Regions from separate parts of the Homo sapiens genome. Here region 1 is linked to region 2. The links come from fine-mapping of genetic effects on gene expression. Tissue or cell type: CD4 T cells. Region 2 holds a variant in brackets; the other region holds the start of a gene. All regions are shown on one strand. Distances are between the middles of the regions.

Evidence for each region. PIP is the estimated chance that this variant, and not a neighbour inherited with it, causes the effect.
Region 1: MACIR starts here. The variant in region 2 is fine-mapped to the expression of MACIR in CD4 T cells (Kasela 2017, PIP 0.95).

The regions. Positions count from the first base shown.
Region 1 is chr5:103,253,939-103,262,126 of GRCh38, forward strand. MACIR (macrophage immunometabolism regulator) reads left to right here and starts at 4,825. Exons shown (of 3, transcript NM_033211.4): 1 at 4,825-4,958. RefSeq lists silencers at 4,486-4,995, 5,206-5,585.
Region 2 is chr5:103,888,989-103,897,176 of GRCh38, forward strand. All of the region lies in intron 3 of LOC105379107 (a long non-coding RNA gene), which reads left to right. LOC101930276 (a long non-coding RNA gene) reads right to left here and starts at 2,409. Exons shown (of 3, transcript XR_427752.4): 1 at 2,344-2,409. The variant GA/G (reference allele first, on the strand shown) is at 3,292.

The sequences.
Region 1 (8,188 bases), 640 kb before region 2:
GTTCCTTAAAACCTAAGTCTTACCTTGGCAGGCTTTGATGTGAGGAGGCCTGCCTGGCCCGGTTTTGCCTCTTATTGGGTAGGTATATCAGTCTAATTATGGGATTTAAAAAATAGAACCACTGTAATTGTACATTAAACTATGTCCTCCAATGTTACAGAAACAATTGGCGCCACCTTTATGCCTTTTATTTCTCAATTTGTTTGGAATGGGGCAGGAAAGGGGGTGCTACTTGGGCCCTCTTGAAAACCATTTCTCTCACCTCTTAATTTATGAATGAAGGGGCTGAGGCCAACAGAAGTAAAGTTTAATTTGCCCAGATTCAAGTGGTAGTTTATGAGTACCTGTTCTGTGCCAGTCTAGATATTGTAAAGGATACACGTATAAACACAACTCAAGTTTCTTAAGAAGCTTATAATTTAGTGACCAACCGGAGGTCCCACAGCAAGCTGGAACTGAGAAGTGATTTCTCTGTTGTTTATAATGCTGTTATATTTTTGTTTCCTCTATTTTCTATCTTCTTTTTTTATTGATATAATTGAGTTAAATAGGCTTTTCTATGCAAATTATGGAATTTAATTACATTTTCTTTCTATGAAAGAATATTTCTAAAAGCACAGATTTTAATTCTCTGAACTGCTGTCCTCCTCCGCACACAGGAGGGGCCCTTTGAAGATTATCAAATGGTATGCTGGTAAACTGGCTTTCTGGGGGGTGGGGAGATTAGAGAGAAATGGGAAGCCCTGTTTATAGAATTTGCCAATTTCTATGGTGTAAATACTCCTACCATAGCTGATTTCAAGCTACTGATGATTTAACAACCAGTTTGCAAAGTTCCTGAAAATTTAGCAATCAGTACTTCTGAGCCAGATACAAGATACAAGCTGGCTTCAGCAGACCTTACTACAGGTTCTTCTCCCACTCCTCGCAGTAAAAATAGGCTAAATATTTACTGAGCACCTGTTATATGTCAGTCTCTGGGCTTTCTTTGGGGGTTAGACATAGTCTGAGACCTCAGGGAATGTATAGTTTAGAGGGGGAGATAGTATATTTCAGCACTGTGTGGTATTAGGCCAGGGAAATGAGAAATATCAGTAGGAATCAGAAAACTCTTCTTAGAGGTGGTGACATCTACATGAAATCTGAGGAATGGCAAAGAATTAGACTGAGAGGGAGGGGTGGAGAAGAATGCTCCACAGGAAACAATTATGTACAGGCTTAAATAATGAATAAGCAGAATGTGAGTGTGGAGTTAGAAGTGGTCTAGCAAGAGCTGAAGGGCAGCCTGAATTTCCCTCCTGAGCGCCCACTCCACATATCTGGCCTTCTGCTTGACACCTCCATGAGGATGTGCCACAGAGTCACCAAATTCAACATATTCCAAAGTAAGCTCCTTCCACCTTTCTCCTCCTCAGCTTGGTCCACAATACTAACCGTCTCTTACTTCTATGGCTGGATAATATTTTGAGATACTAATTTATGATTTTTTTTCCAACTTGTATTTACCCCCTTGTTGCCTTCGGGAGAGATGTGGCAGGGTAGAGAGGAGTTGCCTGCAGATCATTTTTTCATTCTGGCTCTTACTGAAAACAACCTGAGCCCCCAGAGACAGAATAGAGTTTGCTGGCAATGGCAGAGTGTCTGGGAAAAAAAAAATGAAGAGGAAGGATTTTCCTTAAGAAGTGATTCCCTTGTATCTGGAAAGAAGAGGATAGAAGTCAGTATGTCCCAAGGCAGTGGGATTTGAGCCCTGAACTTGGACCACCATAATACCCTAAACATAAATGACCGAGGATGTGTGAGGCTTAGCAGGATGGTCCCAGATCTAGGAAATTCCTCTGGCCTCAGGTGTGGTGCCGGAGCCAAAGGGAGGGAACCAGTGTATAGGGCAGGGCCGTCTCGTCTATAGGCAGGTTGTGCACTGTATCATGGAACCATAGGTGGCAGCTCCAGGAAGGAACAAAGGAAACCTCTGTGGACAGATGACTGCAATCCGAAGGACCTCCCCTCCACTCCCTGCCATCATCACCCATTCATGGTCTGGTCTGGCATATGCTCTTGGAACTTTGACCCTGCTCGAGGGAATGAGGGAAGAACTTTACAAAAGAGTAAGGCCTTTAAAGAGAAATAAAATCAAGTGCAGATTCACGTTCTATGTTCTTCTCCTAGTCTCCTCAGTGTCTCAAAGGGCTGATCCCCGTAGGCTGTTTCCCTGGCTCCCATGGCAGGTGTATCAGACTTGGCCAATGCAAGGCACTGGAAGGAGATTGGAGGGCAGGAGAGGAGAACGTATAGTACATTTCCCCCTTCTCCCTCCCTAGATTGCTTCTTTGGCAGTGGTTGTTTCTCCTCTATGGCCGCAGCTCTCACCAGGCTGGCCATGCTGCCTGGGCCCTGGACTCCAATAACCCTGCCTCTTCTCTTATTTCTCCAGCTAGAGGTCGCAGTTGCTAGTTTCTGGATTACTGTGCCATCTCCTGATTAGCTTCTGACTTTTCCTATCACCTACGTTACCAATTTCTTGCATTCAATTACTTCTGTAGATACTCAAAATGGTTTCTGTTTTCCTGGTTAGACCCTGCTTGAAACAAATGAGTTTATAGAAAAGAAGGTAATGTGGTATTTCTTGCACACCTGTCTTTGTAGATTCTGTTTTACATCATTATGTTGTTATCAAATTCACCTATTCTGTTCTCTCAAGCTGGTTGTTTGCTAGCCGACATCATTTACATCAACGTAGTATAATATTTCCCAGGCAGCTGACATTTTAAAGTCATTTTAAAGGGATTTTCTGGAAAGGATGCCTTGAGGCAAAGACATAACTTACACAAGGAGTGTGTGAGATGGAGCTTCTGAGTCCCCAAATTCAGAAGGCCTTTCAGGGCTCTGGGTCTATTCTACATTTGGGCCTAACCCTTTATATGAATGCCATTTTTCTTTATAGGTTGAAGAGATCTTCCTAAAACACTAAAAAGCTCTGGGAAGGGATTCTGCATTAACTTGCACCTCTTATATGCCCCTCAGCCACGGCACTTGCAACCCACATCCAATCCGAGTGAAGACAATACCCAGTCAGTATCTCTAGGTGGCATAAACATATCCTTGATGGAGCCACACATAAAGCTATTATCAACCATTACTGCATGGTGAATTGGTTTATTAGGTGTTCTTTGTGACACTCAAGAACTGACTTAGGTTCTGATTGGGTGAAGATTCAGGGTTAGGATGGGAGCATAGAACACCACCCAGGGAGGGAGGCAATTTGGAGACAATGCCCTCAAGAGAGCTAGCCTTGAGCCTAATAAACTAAGAGGGGAACTTTATTGCTTTTGGCCAAAGCACACTGCCAAACTCTCAGCGCAAAGGGCAAGTACAAGACATTCTTCTGAAAAAGTTATAAGATTTCAGACAGGAAGAAATGAAATTAAGTCTCTTAATATAAAATATACAATGTTTTGGAGGTGGTTTTATGAGAATGATCATCAGGACAATACACTATTGTGTCAAACAGATTATAATCGGAAATAATTCTCGGTGTATTCTCCTAATGTACTGATGCAAAAAAAGTTTCTTCATTTATTTATTCATATTATGTTGTGCTAGCTTCTATATTTTTGAAATTACATGCAAATCTATGTCGGGAAAAAAAGTAACTGATGTTTTGTAAAATTGTTTAGGGAACATTCCTTAAAACTTATTCTTCCCTCTACCTTCCTTTACTTATTTTAGGGCACATAAGCAGTAGCATAAAATGGCTTATAGCTGAGCGGCCTCCGGGAGTGGTTCTGTTGGACTAGAGGTGTTTATATATTTTTTGCCTTTATATTATCAGGAACATATGTAGATTCTGGAACAAGTGTGAATCAAGACTCGTTTAAACTTATATTAATCTACTCCAGATTTATGTCTTTTATGTTAAGATAAAGCATTTTGTCTTTTAAAAAATAAAACTCTCTTGATTGGACACTGGTACCGAAATTTATAACACTTATAAACAATTTTGGGGTTCACCGACTGCGTACACATTCAGCCTTAGCCACTCAGTAGGCATATGACCTAAACTTTCTGCATTTTTAAAATGTGGATCATAATTGGTTACTTCCTCACAGAATGGTTATTGAGAGATGTAAATTTGGATATGCATGCCAGTAAATATTCTTATTGCTGAGCTTAACCAGTTCGGCAGAAATGTACATGAATTGAGAGAAGCAAATCTTCATCAAAGAAAATAATTTATTACAATAATAGACAAGATCAACATTTGTGCAAATTAAAAAATAGTTAATCCAATCAGAATCTGAATTTGAACTCCCCCCCCCGCCCCACCCCGCCACCTTCACTGGGTATTACGAGTTTTCGTAGACTGATCCTATAATTTTTAATTTCATGGCCTTCTAGTTTTCTGTACTTTTGCTTAGTGCTGAGCCCTTTAAGCAGAGACTCACAAGTGACAAATATCAGCACACCACTTAACTGAGGAAGCCGGAGTGTTCCCAGGTCCGCAAGTTGGAGCTCTTTAGTTGGAGTGCTGGGTTTAGACTAGAGAGCGGGTGTTGCGACTCCTCCTCCCCACCACCAGTCAACAACCCCGCCCACCCCCGCCAACTTCTTCTGGCCTCTTAGCGCCTTTCTGCAGCCAGCCGGCCCGCCCTTCCTCCGGGTGTCTGAGAGCTGGGCGCAGGAGGCGGGCTCAGCGCTGACGGGCTGCGCCTCTGCAGCCAGAGGGAGGAGGCGGGAAGGCGGGCGGAGGAGGAGGCGGAGGAGGAGGCGGAGGAGGGGGCGGGGACTAAGCAGGGCGGTAGCTGGCGCCGAGCGCGGTGGGAGAGGAGAGGGTACCCGGCTGGCTCGGCTGGCGGCCTCTGCCTGGATCTCGGCGCCGCAGTCCTGCGCCTCTCCCGCCCCTGTCTCCCGCTCCGCAGCCCCGGGCACGGCGGAGGCAGCGGAGCCCTGGGCCATCGGTAGGTTGCACGGGGACGACGGCTCCGTCTGTAACCTTTTGTGCTGCAGAAAAGGTGGTGGTTATGGGGGGCTTGGGGGAGTGGGTTTGCCCCAGGCTCCGATCCCCAGTGCCAGCCCTAATCGCGGCGCCGCCCCTTCCTCTCCGCCTCGTGTCTGGGCCGGGCGCACGATGCCCGCGGTGCTGGGGAAACCCGGCCGGACCAGCTTCTGCGATGGGCGGCGGGGCGGCCCCAGCGTCCCTTGGCCTTGGTGGACCGGTTCCCAGGCACCCGAAGGGGACTGGGGTCTGGTAAACTGGGTGGGGCCCGCGCGGGGTGCGGGGAGCTTGCGGTTCCCTGGCACAGGGGTGGGGCCGCAGACGCCGTGAGTGTGCAGCGCGTGTGAGTGTGCGGGGGCGTGCGCCCCCGTGTGCGCGCGTCGTGCGCTCGCTGGGGAGGTGCGGGGACTCGGCGACCCGGAGCGCCTCTCCCGCGGTGCCGCGGTGCGGAAGTCGGGGCGCGTTGGCGCGCACGCTCGCTCGCTCCCTCCCTTGGCCGCTGTTCCCGCACCGCGGGGCAGCGGGCCTGGAGGCCCCTTTGAGAAGTAGCTTTCCCCGGCCGGCGGCACCTTTGGCTGCGTGCCCGGCCGCGCTCAGGGTGCGACTGCCCGGGTCAGATAGCACCTCAGGGCGAGCCCCGGCGGTCTGATCTCGCCGACCCTCCTCGTCCTGGTTGCAACCCGCGTGCGAGGCCGCCCGCGCCCTCCGAGTGTCTGCCGGTGCAGTGGGGGTGGACTGGCCGGCTGTGGCCGTGTGTGCGCGTGTGGATTGGGGCCCGGTCCGAGCCAGAAGCTTAAGCGGCAGATGTCGGGCATTGCCACCCTCGCCCCACCTGTCGCGGGTGGACTTTGGGGCAGGTGGGAAGCGGAGGAGAGGGGTTTCGAGGCGGGTGGCAGTCAGACCTCCAGCAACGCGGCCCCATTGTGAAGCTGCCAAACTCTCTCTAGTGGTGGAATCTGCAGGTCTCCGCCAGAAAGGAGATGGGAACGCGAAGGGAATGATGGCCCCGTCCTTTTCCCCTTGCTAGTGTTCCACACGCTTAGGGACTCCCTGCCTCTCCTTCCACCTCAGTTTTCAACCCAGTGGGTTACTGATTTGGGTGGAACCAAGATTTCCGTGTGTGTGTGTGTGTGTGTGTGTGTTTGTGTGTGTGTGGTGCACAGGTAAAGCTGGAGCTGGGAACTTTTTATTTGAGCAGGAAGAATGGAGGCATTTTACAGTGTGCTTGCCGCTCCTAGCTGAAAGAACAATTCTTGCATATTTCTGATGTTACTAGACTCATTTTCCTTTTTTTTTTTTTTCCGAAGAGCCAACCTACAATTTAGGGTTGTTAGTTGTTTTATTTTCTCAAATCCTGTAATGCTGGATTGACACTATAGAGGTAGAAATGACCCTTTTGCAAAGTTTATTTTCCCAGTCATTTCAAAATATAGTATTGGTTATTACGGCAGAAGCTTTTGGCCGCGATTTATGATTACACTATTAAGTTTAATGAATGTGTCACAGAATCCTCAGTGTTTTAATTATGTAACTGTGAATGCATTATAAACTGAAAAGTAAAATGAACAGGATGGAATATAAGAGTTAATGAATACAGAGACCTGTTAATTTGATAATAATTGATGTATAGAATATGCTTTTGCTAACAGTTTATTTAATTGCAAATGAAAGTGTTAGTAATTATTTCAGTGTATAAGATATATTTATTGATATTATATAACAGTCAATGAATTTGCTTATTTTCTTTGTATATTTCTGTGTATTTTAGAGAGCTATTATAAAATTAACTCAAAAGTACTTAATATGGTTAGAGTAATAAAGCTTTATGTACAGGGTTTAAAATTTCTTTGCTGATTTGTAGCTGGGGGTGAGGTGGGGGATCAGCTCCTTTCCTCCAGAGAGAACTTTGATTTTGTCACCAGCCTATCAAAATGAGTACCTGGTTTTAAGCCTTCCCAAAGATTAGCCAATTCCACAGTGTACACCTGTTCCATTTTGATGATACTTCCTAAGAGACAAATTTCTTGTAAAGGCTGCATGTTGACCTTTAGTTCCACTTACTGTCGGTCATATTTGCAGTGAAACTGAGTATTTTTCTAAAAGTAGAAGGATGACACCACGTGATAAGAAGATATTAGTAACCTAGGTTTAATTTTTACTAGCAGAAATGGAAAGATAATGAGTGCTGCACTTTAAGGGGGTGGATTGCTATTAAAAGAACTGATACTAGAAAGAGAAACACATTTTTGTCTTACTGAACGAATTATGGGTTATCTTACAAAGTTGGCAAGGTTAATGGTTTGTTTGTAAGGTCAAGGATGGTTTCAGAAAAGTCACACCCTAGTTAACTCTTCTTAAAGAGTATTGATGACTTACTTTTTGCAAGTTGCAAATGGTAAAGTAAGAATATTTGAAAGAAGCCTCTAAGATGAGCATCTAGGTGCAGCTAAACATTTTGTTTTCATTGTTGTGTTGTACTTTGACAGTTAAGCCATTTTATTTCTGCTTAGTGTTCAGTTAGTATTCCTCCAGAGATGTTTTGGTTCATCTTTTACTTGTTTTTAGTGGTCTTTGAGATTAGTGGTTACAAAATATTTTCACTATTTTGAAAGAATTTTTAAAAATTGATGTTTTTTTTCCAAGTGCTTTTCCATTAGTGGTCTCTTCTTAAATAGCCACTCTGAAAATACTACCTGTTTTTCTTTTTCTTTCTTTCTTTCTTTCTTTCTTTCTTTCTTTCTTTCTTTCTTTCTTTCTTTCTTTCTTTCTTCCTTTCTTTCTTTCTTTCTTTCTTTTCTTTCTTGAAAATGTTTTGGTGGGCTTCAGGTTAGGGCCATGAAAAAAATGAAAATAAATGTTTTGATAGCTAGAATTAGAACTCACAGCTTCTACTGTACCAATTTCTCTGCCTAAAATTTGTCCTTTCATAATATAAACTTTAATGATGAATGTGATTTTTATTTACCAATATTTGAAAGGGCTATGTGCTGGTCCTCATATTTATAGTCTTATGATTTGTGATCAATGTTGTTAAATTTTTTCTTACTGCTGTTTTGTTAGTGATCTGTGCTGAAGCTTGAGATTCACGACTTTTTTGTGTGTTTACGAATTTTGTATGGACATAAACATTTCCAAATGGAGCTTTGTATATTTTTGGGAAAGGCACTCCCTTTTTTGGGTTCCTAGTGCCAT
Region 2 (8,188 bases):
AATACAAAAACAAAATTAGCCGAGCGCGGGGGCGGGCGCCTGTAGTCCCAGCTACTCGGGAGGCTGAGGCGGGAGAATGGCGACAACCCGGGAGGCGGTGCCAGAGCGCAGTGAGCAGAGCTTGCAGCGCTCCGAGCACTCCAGCCTGGGAGACAGAGCGAGACTCTGTCAAAAAAAAAAAAAAAAAAATTGTCCTAAATATGTCACAAACTCTGATGGATGTGCATAATATTACCTTTAATTTATCATAAGTAAATCTTGTGATGCTTACACAGAAGAAAGGAGTCTGAAGATTGTGAGATCACTTTGGTTTATCCATAGCTTTTATTTTGCAATTTCAGTAACTTATCTCAAGTTTCAGTCTCTAACTTGTCCTCCCTTGATAAAGATTTCTTAAGGAATGTAAAAACATTATTTTCAATACATCAGTAAACTTGCAGTGTTTCCTAATTAAAATCTAAACCTTTAGGCATATAGCTTTTAATTGTGACTAATGTGAAATAAAATTAAATTTGGCCTAAAGCTGTCTCTGTGGATAGCAAACTATGACCTAACTTAGTATATAAGCAAACTGCAACCTAACTTAAGGATGTAAACAAACTGCAACCTAAATTAAGAGTATATTCTTATAACAAATAGCTGAGTCACAGCCAATCACAGCAGCCACACTTGAGCTAATCAGAGGCCGCCAACTATTCAGACCAGGCTCATATAAGGGAAACACCTAGCCATAACCAATCTATTTCTGTATGTCAGTTTCTTTTTCTGTCTATAAATATTGCCTGCCCACATTGCTGGGTCGAGCTCTGTGAACCTCTTCTGGTTCTGAGTGCTTCTTGATCTGTGAATCATTATTTGCTCAAACTCTGCTAAATTTAATTTGTCTAAATTTTTTAAGAGTATATTTTATGGCATTCTAGTTGTTTAATTGTTGAAAATATAGTGCAGGCTTTCCTTAATATATATCACAGACAGCTTTCTGAGTTATGGTCACAGCACAATCAGCTATCAAATTGAAACTGTTTCCCTCCATAACCTCAGCCTTGAAGTTTTTTCTTGATATGAACCTTTGTCTTTCTGTTTTCAATTTCCAAATTTTTAAATGGCAAAATTACAATTTTTTTCCTTTTCATTATGACATGATTGAAAAATCCCCAATCAATACTCAATACAACATTTACTATTAATAATATTTTAGGCTTATCATGGAGTTTCTTTTATGATCAGAGTAAGCATGTTATTTTCCAAGAGGAATATACAAACTTTTCCTTTTGAAAGCATTGGTTAAAATGAGGGAATTTTTATAAAAGTGAATGGAGGAAGAGCAGAACCAATGAAGCCAGAAGATATATTTTACTTAGAAAAGCAGACACAAAATTTATAGTGCTCTCTTTAAATAATACATTAGTTTGACCCTGCTGTGCTATATATTTTTATATATTTAATGTGAACTTGGGGACTCATTTAGGTTTGGACCAAGCTAGTCTTACCTGTATCTATACCAGTGAAGCTGTTGCTACTTACAGGACAGAAAGAAGCAGTGACCCATACATGTCAATCCTCTGAGACAAGTTGAGTTTTATTAACTGTCACAAAACATTTTCTTTGTGTAGGGTCCAAAGCTGCATTCAATATATTTAGGAGCTTTGTCATATGGCATACGTTCTACTGGTCATTAATAATATTAATACTTCTATATTTTGTATGATTAATAAAATTGAAATTATGTGCTTTGTTATAATGGAAAGTGAAGAACTGATCATCATTTCCTGAAATATACTCTATTGGTTTAAAAATAAACAGCCGAATAAATACCTTGCCTTCAAATTTAAGCTATAGAAAAACTCTTTTCTCTAGACCTGATTTACACCTACCATCAGGATTTGTTTTCTTCTTACTTTTTTTTTTTTTTGTAAGAATTGACTAGTTAATGTTTACAAAGTATTTTGAAGGTGTAAAGTGCTGGCAAGTGCTAAGCCCAATAAAAAGTATTTTATACAAAATCTGAGAGCTGACTTGTACAGCATCCAGCTTTGTGAGTGAATAGAGCAAAGACGATTAAAATCAACATCATTTGTAATTTAAAGTACCGTGAACAACAAAGAGGATCCAACTATTGTTTTCGTTTGACAGGCTGCAAATATAGATTGCTGAACAGCGGTAGTCTGTCAATATAAAGCATTTAGCACTTCACTAAACAACTTGAGAATTTTCTACTTTAGGAAAAGAAATATGAAATCAGATTTGGTGTAACATTATTATTTTAATGGATTAACCATATCATTATTAAAAAGAAAACTACAACTCAACAAAATCCAAGAAAGTCTTTGCTATAGAACTTACCAGTGTGGTGAATGTTCAGAAAGATGAAACCCTTTCCATGAAGGCTTTCCCTAGCTCCACCCATCTGGAATGTGCAGAGGGATGATGACAGAATTCAATTGCACGGAAGAAAGAAAGCATTGTATTCAAAAAAAGCATTGTATTCAAAGAAAATACTGAGAATAGATAAAAGGTTGATATTTGTTGATCACAGACCACTCGTGAGGTGGAGCTTTGGAATGCAGGTTTCCACAATCCTAGTTTCATAAAATGAAAAATATTTTATAGTACTCTAATAAATGTTGATTGAGTCCACAAAATATTCTTAGAATTTTGAGGGAATGCTTTTACTTACTGTATTTTTATAAAACCAGTTCTAAAAAATAATTTAACTCTGCTCTTAGGGAATATACAGATGAATAAGGCACAGATCACAAACTCACAGAACTAGCAGTAGGGAAATTATAATAAAATGCGTAAGTAAACACCTATACTACAAAAGAGAATGCGGAAGTTAGACAATTAAGATATTAATTTGATATTTTGGGAATTTAGAGGAAGACATTCTGCCTCATCAAGGGAAATCAAATAATACTTTTAATTAAAATTATGTAGTTCTGCCAATTTATATACCTGTCACCTTTAAATTATTTCAGATAAAAGGATTTAAGGGCTGGGCGCGGTGGCTCACACCTGTAATCCCAGCACTTTGGGAGGCCGAGGCGGGCGGATCACGAGGTCAGGAGATCGAGACCATCCTGGCTAACGCAGTGAAACCCCGTCTCCACTAAAAATACAAAAAATTAGCTGGGCGTTGTAGCAGGCGCCTGTAGTCCCAGCTACTCTGGAGGTTGAGGCAGGAGAATGGCGTGGACCTGGGAGGCAGAGCTTGTAGTGAGCCGAGATCTTGCCACTGCACCCCAGCCGGGGGGACAGAGCCGAGACTCCGTCTCAAAAAAAAAAAAAAAA[GA/G]AAAAAAAAAAGGATTTAAGGTAACAGCAACAATAAAAAGATTAATTTGTTCATTAATTCTATAAGTATTTATCCTGACTCTGATTGTATTTATATTTTTTATGTTTCTGTTGTTGTTCTTGTTTTGAGACAGGATCTTGCTCTGTCACTCAGGCTGGAGTGCAGTGAAATGATCATAGATCACTGTAGCTTCCAACTCCTGGCTCAAGTGAGCTTCCCATCTCAGCCACTGGAGTAGCTGGGACTACAGGTGCACACTACCATGCCTAGCTAATTTTAATTTTTTTTTTTTTTTTTCTGTATAGACAAGGTCTCACTAGGTTGCCTAGGCTAGTCTTAAATTCCTGGCCTCAAGAGAGATCCTCCCACCTCACCCTCCCAAAGTGCTGAGATTGTAGGTGTTAGCCACCAAGCCTGGTCCCATCCTGACTCTCACAGTATTTAAAAACAAACATCTTGAGTTTAGAAAATGCATTGCTTTGTTGGTAAATCAAAGCTGTGTGTGCATGGTTCAGAGATTAATTAATTTTTTTGTGATACATTACTTAGATTACTATGCTTGAGGACAGTCCACTCATTTTTTTAAAGTTGCAACAAGATTCATTCCCATATTTTTACCTAAATTCTGGGCAGATAGGTTACAGTCAATATGCTTTAATTATCCCATTGGCCAATGGACCTTCTCAATAACAAAATGAGATATGACCTGCCCCCAAATGTGAAGAGATCTAGATACTATCGAAGTAGAAAAACTATGCTTTATTACCATTGTAATACCTTCTACTGATAATCTTATTCTGTAGCTTGTGGCCCCCTCACACCCAGGTTCCTCATGTTGCTTCTTAATCTTCCATCGTCCATATTCCTGGGACCTTACCAGTTTCTTTTCTGCTGCTAGAGTTTATCATAACTCTCTTTTAATGTACACATTCAATGAAAAGTATTTAAAAATTTTTAAAGTATAAGGACATTAACAAAATCTCTCATGATCTCACTATCCAGGATAATTATTTTTTAAACTATTTTGGTACATATCCTTCAAACCATTTTTTCCAACCCGACTTCCTTTAAAAGTTGTTATAATACTATATAAATACATATTTACTTAACCTTATTTTATCAACTTTCTAAACATTTATTCTGGAAGGTGTTGATGGTGCCTTTTCTCCATTATTTAAATTTCAAGAAATAAGAAATACCAAATGCATGTAAATCTGCAATATAAAAAGAAGTTAATTCACAAAGCTCAAAACTAAAAATATCATATGTGAACAATGCCAACATTACTCTTTGCCTAAAATATTTGAGTATGAAACCTGTATCCATTCATGAATCAATATTTGTTGAATGCTCATTAAATGCTGTGAGAAACACTGCGAGGAGCACAGTATTTTGCAATGCAATGGGATGTGATGGTCAGGAGTACTGCCCCGTCAAGCATTATTTGTGTGATCGTGGAGTAACCGTTTCTATACATGTCAGGTTCTTCACTAGACTTTGGGCTCCTTGACTTTAGGATACATAATTCATTTTTGAATCACTAGCACCTAACACAAAACATAACACATATTGGGTGGTTAATGAATTGAATTAAACAGCAGGACTATATTGGATAATTTTTATCCAACTTAAATTCTAATTTTGATGAATAATTCCTAAGCTATATATCAATCATTCATCACTAAAAAGACACCTAACTTTGGTTTTTCACATATATCAAATTCTTATACTGTGACAGCCAATGTGTTTTAAATATATTGGCTGTAACCTTCACAAACTCTAAGGGGTAAAGGCCCTTGTTTTTATGATTTTATAACTGAGGTTTCGAATATTAATTTTCTCAAGTTCTCATAGCAAGTGAAGAACAGTATGTGAATCCAATTTCAACACCCACTATAGCAGACTGTTTCACAGATGATACCTTAAAGGAAGGCACCGAAGTTCAGGCGACTAGAACTTTCAGAAATTAAAATCATCACTAGCTTAAAAGCAAACTGTAAAGGTCCTATATTTGCATTTTTTTTTTTTTCGGAGGAGGGACCAACAATTGTGACATGCTACTCTAGATGAAATAACTCAGCTTTGTTAAGTAGAGGTAAAACATACTAGAAAGTTTTCTTGTACTGTATTAATTTCTCAATCCTGCATGTGAAGAAGGATATTTTCAAAGTGAGACTTATCCCAAAAGACAGTGAATAAACTAAAAACAACTTCTTTTAAGGTTAAAGTAACAGGGTTTTACAAGCTTGAATATCTTATTCAAAATATTCCAGATTGGAGGACTCATCTGTGAAAGTCTAAATGAAATTTATTCCATGTGACTAGAATTCAGACTTAAGAACAATGAAGAACAGTGAATGGAAATTCTTAGGGAAGTGAATCTAAGTCTTTAAATCATTTTAACAATTACGGCTACCTGTCCCACAAGAGGGCAGGTGATTGTGTCTTTGATCTTTGTTACCAGGGCCTGGCATCATGTCTGACCTTGTAGTCACCTTTCAATGTTGATTTACTAAGTAAATGAATGGATGTTCAAACAAACAGCATAAAAGGCTACTTGGTAAGGTAGTGGGTTCCTATTAATGGAAGATTAATTCTCAGTCTTGATGGGGACTCAGCAGTATTCTGTGGAAGGATTCCTGAAGAGCCTAGTATGAGAAAACCCTGGGACTAGGTAAAGTACAGATGCTCAGCTAGGAAAACCTGGCTGCCAGGTCAGGGTGGAGGTTAAAGTTGGACAATGAGCTAAGAATTCCTGCTTAGAAAGTAGATCAGTGCCAGTGCTGGGGGTGGGGCTGAGGCTGCAGAGCTGTACTAAGAGGTTCCAGCTGTCAGAGAACAGGCAGGCCATTTACATGAGTAAGTCTTAGATGCCTTTGATATACAAGATTTTAGCATTTTGATGAGTTAAGATTACTTGAACACTTGGAAAAATAAAATTGCAGATCTTTTCATAAACTGTTAGTAATTACTAAAAAGAAATCATTTCCAGAAATAGTATGTTCAAATCAGTGGCTCTCAAATATGACAGTATAACTCCCAACTGTGAGTATTAATTCTGATTTAGGAGTGGGATGAAATTATTTCTAAGTTAACTTTTCACTTAAAAAAGAAAAAAAAAAACAGCCCTCTCCTCTCTTCCTACTACTAATAGAATATAATTATACAGTTTTTAAAAGTTTTGGATGTTCTTTGATATATACAAATATTTCTTCACTTATATTTATGAATGTCAACAAAATAGTTTAAAAGTGAAAATTTAATTAACACTTTTAACTTTTTTTGCATTATAGTAAATAATAGTCTGATTGTTTATATGTTAATTATGTTATTATCTATAATTTTAGTTTATAGGAGCCTAAGGTATCTGTTTTAATATTTTCTAAAGTTAAAAAAAAAGATTCTCTCCACTTTAAATGTCAATTTTTCTTCTCTTCCAAATAATAAGAACTCTCAAATTTAGCTGACTACCTTGCTGCCCTCCTCAAAGACTGGATTCCTCCTACCAATGACTATGGACAAATGAAAATATTTTGATCAATGAAAACTAAGTATTACATGTAACTTTCAGGAAATATGCTCAAAGGGATTTTGAGATATCCCTTCTCTTATTCCCTTTTCTTTTTTCCTGGGATGTGGATAGGATGACTAGGGCACAAGCAGCCATCTTGTGCAATGAGGCAGGACTGAGAATGGTGGAGTATCACAAAGCTGCAAAACAGCTCTGAGCTGTTAAATTTGAATAATACTGAAAGTGAATAAATATTTATCGTATTTGGCATCTTATACTGATGTTGTTATTGTGATTGCTATTGTTAACGTTTTATGTAACTGAATGCTGATACATCAGAAGATTGAACTGTCATGAATAAACACACCCACATATTCTCACATTTGTGTAACACTGTTGTAACTGATTTGTATTGGAGCTGCTGAGCAACCTTTACATCTCTGACAGTGACACAAGTTTACCAAATACCTTTGGCAATTTGAACCATCATAAATTGACATCCATGACTGATGTATTTCTAAATCTTACCTTCTGGGAAACAGGAAAGCTATCTCAAAATCTTTCTCCAAACCTAGTACTCTCTAAGTTGTTAAAATATATATTTGGAAAATGAATCATATCTAATAGAGGGAATTTTTTAAAATAACATTTTTAAAATTTAGATAAATTGCCATATTGTCATTTGAAGTCTGTAATAATATAAAAAATTTGTGATAAATATTATTTTATTTTAATAACACTACAGTTTTGGCTATTCATTCACATGATGTGTAGTAGAGTGCTTGTATTGAGACCTAGCTCCTTGTTTTTGCTCTGTGGTCTGATATCTTTTTATACCATGAGTTTGCTTTTCAACATAGACTTGACTGCAATAAGTCAACTGAAATTTTGCTGAGTACCGTTTATGAAACCTGGAGTCAAAGGCTCCTTCCTCGCCTTTGGGTGCTCAGGGCATTGTGCCAATATTTTGATTTGAGGTCATGTTATTCCTTTATTCATGCTGTTCACAATGTGGCTATTAAATGTATACCTATATTAAGAATTCCTGCTGTTATAATAGGTGTACCAGATAAAACTCAAATCATGCGTAAATGCTCCATAGGGAAATTGGGCAAAGTCTGTGAAACTGGTTTTTTAAAAAGCATTAGGGATGTTTTAAGAACATCTTTAGTAGAAGCACCTAAATTACTTTTCTTTTTAAGTCTTGTTTTAAACAATAGTTCATCTGAGGCAAGAAAAATGTGTTAAGATTTTTGTGATTCTAAGAATATCTATGAAAGAAGATAATTGAGAAAATGCTTTACAACAAAAGTGATTCTAGGTAATTGTTCTTAAAAGTCATGTGTTAAAAATAATATCCAAAAGAGTTATGTTGTAGAAAAGAT